Linked DNA regions of Homo sapiens. The protein of the gene in region 2 purifies or fractionates together with the protein of the main gene of each other region. This does not show direct contact. Each region holds a gene or a part of one and is shown on either strand. Other genes may lie near its edges.

Region 1 (3,748 bases), on a different chromosome or scaffold from region 2:
CTCTCCCTGGGGCTCTGTCCCCCTCTCTCCCTGGCTCTCTGTCTTCCTCTCTCTGGGGCTCTGTCCCCCTCTCTCTCTGGTCTCTGTTCCCCTCTCTCTGGGTCTCTGTCCCTCTCTCTCTGGGTCTCTGTCCCTCTCTCTCTGGATCTCTGTCCCCCTCTCTCTCTGGGTCTCTGTTCCCCTCTCTCTGGGTCTCTGTCCCCTCTCCTCTCTCTGTGTCTCTCTCCCCCCTCCTCTCTCTGTGTCTCTGTCCCCCCTCCTATCTCTGTGTCTCTCTCCCCCCTCCTCTCTCTGGGTCTCTGTCCCCCCCTCTCTGGGTCTCTGTCTCCCTCTCTCTGGGGCTCTGTCCCCCTCTCTCTCTGGATCTCTGTTCCCCTCTCTCTGGGTCTCTGTCTCCCCTCCTCTCTCTGTGTCTCTGTCCCCCCTCCTCTCTCTGGGTCTCTGTCCCCACCCCGTCCCCCAGGTCTTTGCACACCCTCTCTGTCACAGTGTCTCTTCTGAATCTGTGAATGTCACTCCTCGCAGTGAGTACACCGTGCACCTGGGCAGTGATACGCTGGGCGACAGGAGAGCTCAGAGGATCAAGGCCTCGAAGTCATTCCGCCACCCCGGCTACTCCACACAGACCCATGTTAATGACCTCATGCTCGTGAAGCTCAATAGCCAGGCCAGGCTGTCATCCATGGTGAAGAAAGTCAGGCTGCCCTCCCGCTGCGAACCCCCTGGAACCACCTGTACTGTCTCCGGCTGGGGCACTACCACGAGCCCAGATGGTAGGTGGCCTCAGTGACCCAGGAGTGCAGGCCCCAGCCCTCCTCCCTCAGACCCAGGAGTCCAGGCCCCCAGCCCCTCCTCCCTCAGACCCAGGAGTCCAGGCCTCAGCCCCTCCTCCCTCAGACCCAGGAGTCCAGGCCCCCAGCCCCTCCTCCCTCAGACCCGGGAGTCCAGACCCCAGCCCCTCCTCCCTCAGACCCAGCAGTCCTGGGCCCCAGACCCTCCTCCCTCGGAACCAGGAGCCTGAACAACAGCCCTTCTGGTCCTCGCCCCCATCCTCTCTGACTGACAGCTCTCCCTGCTCCTCCCTGCAGTGACCTTTCCCTCTGACCTCATGTGCGTGGATGTCAAGCTCATCTCCCCCCAGGACTGCACGAAGGTTTACAAGGACTTACTGGAAAATTCCATGCTGTGCGCTGGCATCCCCGACTCCAAGAAAAACGCCTGCAATGTGAGACCCTCCCCCCCAATTCCTCCCCAGTCCTGGGTACCCTGTCTGCATGCCCCAGGGACAGAGCTTGACCCGAGTGACTGGGTACCAAGCCCGGCCTTGCCCTCCCCCCAGGCCTGGCCTCCTCAGCTTTTTCCACCTCATTCTCTGCCTAGGTCAGGGGTGGGAGTTTACTTAGGGGCCAATGTGGCCCTGGGGATGAGACAGAGAGTTTAATAGGGGTGAGAAAGTGGGGGTGGGACCAGGGAAGGAGACTGAGGTGCTGGCCTCAGGCCCAAACCTTAAGGGGGCACCAAAAACCTCAGTGATTGAGATAAATCATAATGCAATATTTAAAAATAAAAATAAAAACTCATGCAGAAGTCCATGATGGACAAAATGTCACATTTTAAATAAAGAGCAGGTGGATCTTACTGAATTTTCCCTTGCCGTAAGTACTAGCGTGGCTCAGCACAGCGCTGTACTGGCACTGTCTTCATTTAAAATGTGGATACCATGCCCATCATGCAGTTTTATGTATTACATTTGATTTCGTTAAGTACTGCATTGAAGTATTGTGTATTGCAGTTACTGAGATTTTGTGCCTGAAGCTGATGACTCACTCACCTGACCCTGGCCCTGGTCCCGGGGAAAACACTCTTTCTCTCCACCTCCTCTCTGTTCCCTCTTTCTGGCCTTTTGTCATCCCCTCTGTTTCTGAACAGTCTTCCCACATCTCTCTTTGTGACATAATTTCATTTCATTCTTTTCCTCTTTGTTTTTTCTCTGTGTTGAGCTAGCTTGCTCTCCCTCCCTTGTTCTCTCTCCATGCCCTCCTCTCTGCTCTCTGTCTTCTCCCTCTTTCTCTTGCTTCTCTCTCTCTCCTCCCCTCCCTCTCTCCTCTCCCTGCCCCCCTGCTCTCTCTTTTTTCCTCTCTCTCTGTCTCCTCTCTGGCCCTCTCCTCTTTCTCTCTCTCCCCCACTTCTCTGTCTCTCTTCATCTCTCTCCCTCATCTCTCCTTGCCCCCTCCTTTTTACTGTCTCTCTCTTTCTCTTTCTTCTATCTCTCTCCTCTCCCTGCCGCTCCCCCATCTCTGTCTTTCTTTCTCTCTCTTTATTCTCCTCCTCTCTTCCAGTCTCTCTCTCCTCTCCCCACCCCCACCCCATCTCTCTCCCCACACCTTCCCCCCCTTTCTCTTTGTCTCTCTCTTCTCCCTCTTTCTTCTCCACCCCCATCTCTCTCTCTCTTCTCTTCCCACACCCTCCCCATCTCCCTCATCTCTTTGTCTGTCTCTCTTCTCCCTCCTTCTTTTCCACCCCCATCTCTCTGTCTCTCTCTCTCCCCATACCCTTTCCCTCTTCCTCATCTCTCTTTGTCTCTCTCTCCTTTCCCTCTTTCTTCTCCACCTCCAACTCTCTCTGTCTCTCCACACCCATCCTCCTTGCTCACATCTGCACCTTCAGCTGTCAGGGGATGTGGGATGGTGAGTGTTAGGGATAGAGGAGATGGGAGAGAGATGACTGTCCTAGAGAATAGGGTGTTCCCCTTCTCCCCTGGTGAGGGCCAGTTTCATGAATGTGCAAGCTCTGCACGGACACAGAGCCCCACACTCAGAAGGGTCTCAAACTTAGTCTAATGCATTCCTGCTGTTGTCTTGAAATTCTCAATAATTTTTGAACAAAGGGCCCTGCATTTTCGTTTTGCACCAAGTCCTGTAAATTATGTAACTGGTCTTCACCCTGGTCTCCGAGACCATCGTGTCCCCCTTTCCTGCGCCACAGGGCACGCATCCACCCCTTGGAGATGATGTTCCTTCTCCCACTAGCTTGGAGCAGGGTCCTTAACATTGGAAAATAAAGAGTGCTCTGATCCTGGAAGCCCCACCCCTTCTCTGCAATTGGTCTCATTGGCCAAGGGTCAAACCAGTGTCTTCAAAGGACCTAGTGTGTCCCTAGCACTAGCTCTCCCATTAGTCCCCAGAGACAATGAGTCTCTTCTCATTGGCTATGGTGGAAGTCCATAATCTGCAAGACAAAGACCGATAACTGAGGAATGTATGAGAATGAGTTGGGCTTTGATCTGAAGCCAAAGTTAATCTCCGGCTCTATTCCCTCTAGGGTGACTCAGGGGGACCGTTGGTGTGCAGAGGTACCCTGCAAGGTCTGGTGTCCTGGGGAACTTTCCCTTGCGGCCAACCCAATGACCCAGGAGTCTACACTCAAGTGTGCAAGTTCACCAAGTGGATAAATGACACCATGAAAAAGCATCGCTAACGCCACACTGAGTTAATTAACTGTGTGCTTCCAACAGAAAATGCACAGGAGTGAGGACGCCGATGACCTATGAAGTCAAATTTGACTTTACCTTTCCTCAAAGATATATTTAAACCAACCTCATGCCCTGTTGATAAACCAATCAAATTGGTAAAGACCTAAAACCAAAACAAATAAAGAAACACAAAACCCTCAGTGCTGGAGAAGAGTCAGTGAGACCAGCACTCTCAAACACTGGAACTGGACGTTCGTACAGTCTTTACGGAAGACA
Region 2 (3,748 bases):
AGATTTATGAATTTTTATAATTGCTCCTTTGAGGAAATGCATTATAAGCAACTTCCTTTTTTTCCCCCTTTTGAGACAGGTTCTTGTTCCGTCACCCAGGCTGGAGGGCAGTGACATGGACATAGCTCAGTGCAGCCTCGACCTCCCAGGCTTAAGTGATCCTCCCACCTCAGCCTCCCAAGCAGCTGGGACCATAGACATGCTCCACCATGCTCAGCTAATTTTTGTGGTTTCTTTTGGTAGAGATAGGGTTTTGCCATGTTGGCCAGGCTGGTCTCAAACTCCTGGGCTCAAGCAATCCACCCACCTTGGCCTCCCAAAGCGTTGGGATTACAGGCATGAGCCACCATGCCCAGCTTGATTTAAAAAAAATTTTTTTTGTAGAGATGCGGTCACACCATGTTGCCCAGGCTGGTCTTGAACTCCTGAGCTCAAGCCCAGAACTCCTCCCACCTCGGCCTCCCAAACTGCTGGGACTACGGGGTGAAGATCTCGCCCAGCCCAACTTTCTTTTCTTCTTCTTCTTCTTTTTTTTTTTTTTAAAGACAGGGTCTTGCTCTGTTGCCTGGGCTGGAGTGTAGTGGCATAATCACAATTCACTGTAGCCTCAGCCTCCCAGGCTCAAGTGATCCTCCCACCTGAGCATCTGTAGCTAGGACCACAGGTGCATGCCACGATGCATGCTTTTTTTTTTTTTTTTTTTTTTTGAGACAGAGTCTCGCTCTCTCACCCAGGCTGGAGTGCAGTGGCACGATCTCGGCTCACTGTAGCCTCTGCCTCCCAGGTTCCAGAGATTCTCTTCCCTCAGCCTCACAGGTAACTGGGATTACAGGCACATGGTGCTGCGCCTGGCTAATTTTTGTATTTTTAGTAGAGATGGGGTTTCACCATGTTGGCCGGGCTGATCTCGAACTCCTGAAAAGCACTAGGATTACAGGTGTGAACCACCGCACCTGGCCCCCTGGCTAATTTTTAAATTATGTGTAGACATGGGGTCTCGTTATGTTGCCCAGGCTTCAACTTCCATTTTTTTATGCTAGAATTTTTTAGAAGTATATTAATACTGGCCAGGCGTGGTGGCTCATGCCTATAATCCCAGCACTTTGGGAGGCCAAAGTGGGCGGAATGCTTGAGGTCAGGAGTTCGATACCAACCTGGCCAACATAGAGAAACCCCGTCTCTACTTTACACAAAAATTAGCTGGGAGTGGCAGCATGCACCTATAATCCCAGCTACTCGGGAGGCTGAGGCAGGAGAATCACTTGAACCTGGGAGGCAGAGGTTGCAGTGAGCAGAGATCACCCCACTGTACTCCAGCCCGGGCCACAGAGTGAAACTTTGTCTCAATATATATATATATTTTAATACTGAGATCATGAAACAAGGCAATGTGTTCTTTAAGAGGACCAATTTCAGAGCCATGTAGCAGTGAAGTGAGCAAAGGCTTGCAACTGAAGTAGGGAAGCAGGCTCAGGAAAACCACTACAAGGAAAGGGAAAGTAACAGCCTCAGGATTCATAGGCAGAAGAGAAAGCCAATGGGAAGCAAACTATCCTTCCTTGTTGGACTATAAAGTGGAAATAGAAGAGACCAGGAACCATGTAAAGATCAAACAGGCCTTTTCAAGGTAAGAGGAAGAGAAAGGCCTTCCTTTAAGTATAAAGGCAAGCAAGGCCAGGCACGGTGGCTCACGCCTGCAATCCCAGCACTTCGGGAGGCCGAGGTGGGTGGATCACCTGAGGTCAGGAGTTTGAGACCAGCCTGACCAATATGGTGAAACCCGCCTCTACGAAAAATACAAAAATTAGATAGGCGTGGTGGCATGTCCTAGCTACTGGGGTGGCTGAGGCAGAAGAACTGCTTGAACCTGGGAGGCGGAGGTCGCAGTGAGCTGAGATCACGCCAACGCACTCCAGCCTGGGTGACAAAGCAAGACCCTGTCTCAAAAAAAAAAGTATACATATTTAAAGAAAGCCATAAGACTAAAGCTATCCTGCCTAAAGCTCTAACAGTCACTATCTAGATATTACTGGTGGAGGTATAGAGTCAAGGAAGCAATTCATCAAGGAAGCAAAGGGCCATGCTTTGACCCTCTATCCGTTTCATTGATAAGTAGGTCACAGCATTCCTGGAGAAGCAGCTCAATTAGAAATACCATGGGAAATACAAAGAGACTACCAAGTTTAGTGTCTTCCCCCATATGGGGTCACCCAAGCCTCATTCTTAGAGGCCTGGTAGCACCTCAACTTTAGATTATTTCTAAAAGATTTATTTCAAAAGTTTATGTATATAGCTTTAAAAAGTAATACAGAAAGGCCTATATGAAAAAACAATGGTCCCCTGACCATTGCCACCCAATCAATTCTGATCTGTAGAGAAGACTATTTTATTCCATTAGCTCCATTTTTTTCTCATCTGATGGCTACCTTCACATCTTAATAAACGTATGCAGCTAATAAATGTATGCAGCCATTCTTTTTTTTTTTTAGATGGAGTTTCTCTTGCCAGGCTGGAGTGCAGTGGCACAATCTCGGCTCACTGCAAGCTCCACCTCCCAGGTTCCAGCGATTCTCCTGCCTCAGCCTCCCAAGTAGCTGGGACTACAGTCACGTGCCACCACGCCCAGCTAATTTTTGTATTTTTAGTAGATATGGGGTTTCACCTTGTTGGCCAGAATGGTCTCGATCTCGACCTCATGATCCGCCTGCTTTGGCCTCCCAAAGTGCTGGCATTACAGGCGTGAGCCACCGCGAGTGCTGGGATTACAGGTATGAGCCACTGCGCCCGGCTGCAGCCATTCTTAATTAATTTTTGGGCATCTAAAGAATCTGCTTTCTTACCCCTTCACACATTCCTTAACCCCATCTTCTCATCTTGCTCATTTTAATAAATCAGTAAACAACATTTACCATTTCTATCACTCTGCAACTGTTGTTCATTATATAGTAGCCTTTAAAACTTAAAAAGGGAGGTACAAATTTTTCCCTTTGATTCCAGTAATTTATCCTCTATGGCAAAGTTTAAGTCTAATTTTCATTCGTACCTCTAACCGGGTGACTGAAAAATATATAAATATAAACCCGCTACAAATGGGACAGATCTTACTATGATAGGCTTCATAGATGGCCTTACTTTTCTTTTTCCTGTTCATGGTAGTGAAGGAAGATCATTTAAAGGAGGGGATATACAAATACACAAGGGAAATCTATTAATGGTAAATTGCATACCTAGGTGTAAATAAACTACCTCAGATCCTCTGTACTACGAATAAATACCAAACTGAATAAACTTAGGAATTGACCATCATCTATCTAACTTCTAGGGCTGTGATCATAAATGGCAGAATGTCTTATTTAGTGTTTCAACACTGGGGCAAAAGGGAGAACATATCCTTGTTAACATAAAAGAATATAGATACTGAAAAATAGATTTTTCATTTATCTAGAATTTTAAAATCTAGAATTCTAAAACAGAAAATTCCCCTATGTTCAAAATTGATGTCCATAATGATACTCGAAGCATTCTAAGTGTTTTCTGAATTGTGAAAGTTTAATTTTTTCCAGTCAAGTTTGCATTATACTTCAATTCATTAAACATGGTCACTGCTATGGTGACCACTGTAAATTAAATGGCCAGCAATTCAGTTAACAAGAACCCCATCTCCCTCCTTTCATGTATTTGTATAAATATAATTATTCTGAACAAATGTCACGGAAACATAAAAGTATGATACTCACACTTGGCATAC

Evidence for each region.
Region 1: the proteins of FCF1 (region 2) and KLK7 purify together in Homo sapiens (affinity purification with mass spectrometry; 2 studies listed by BioGRID and IntAct, with this or other methods). This does not show direct contact.

The regions. Positions count from the first base shown.
Region 1 is NC_000019.10:50,977,265-50,981,012, reverse strand, and holds part of KLK7 (kallikrein-7 isoform 1 preproprotein), read left to right. Parts: intron 1-525; coding exon 526-773; intron 774-1,088; coding exon 1,089-1,225; intron 1,226-3,321; coding exon 3,322-3,477; 3' UTR 3,478-3,748. UniProt on the Homo sapiens protein: May catalyze the degradation of intercellular cohesive structures in the cornified layer of the skin in the continuous shedding of cells from the skin surface. Specific for amino acid residues with aromatic side chains in the P1 position.
Region 2 is NC_000014.9:74,716,089-74,719,836, reverse strand, and holds part of FCF1 (rRNA-processing protein FCF1 homolog), read right to left. Parts: coding exon 3,738-3,748; intron 1-3,737. UniProt on the Homo sapiens protein: Part of the small subunit (SSU) processome, first precursor of the small eukaryotic ribosomal subunit.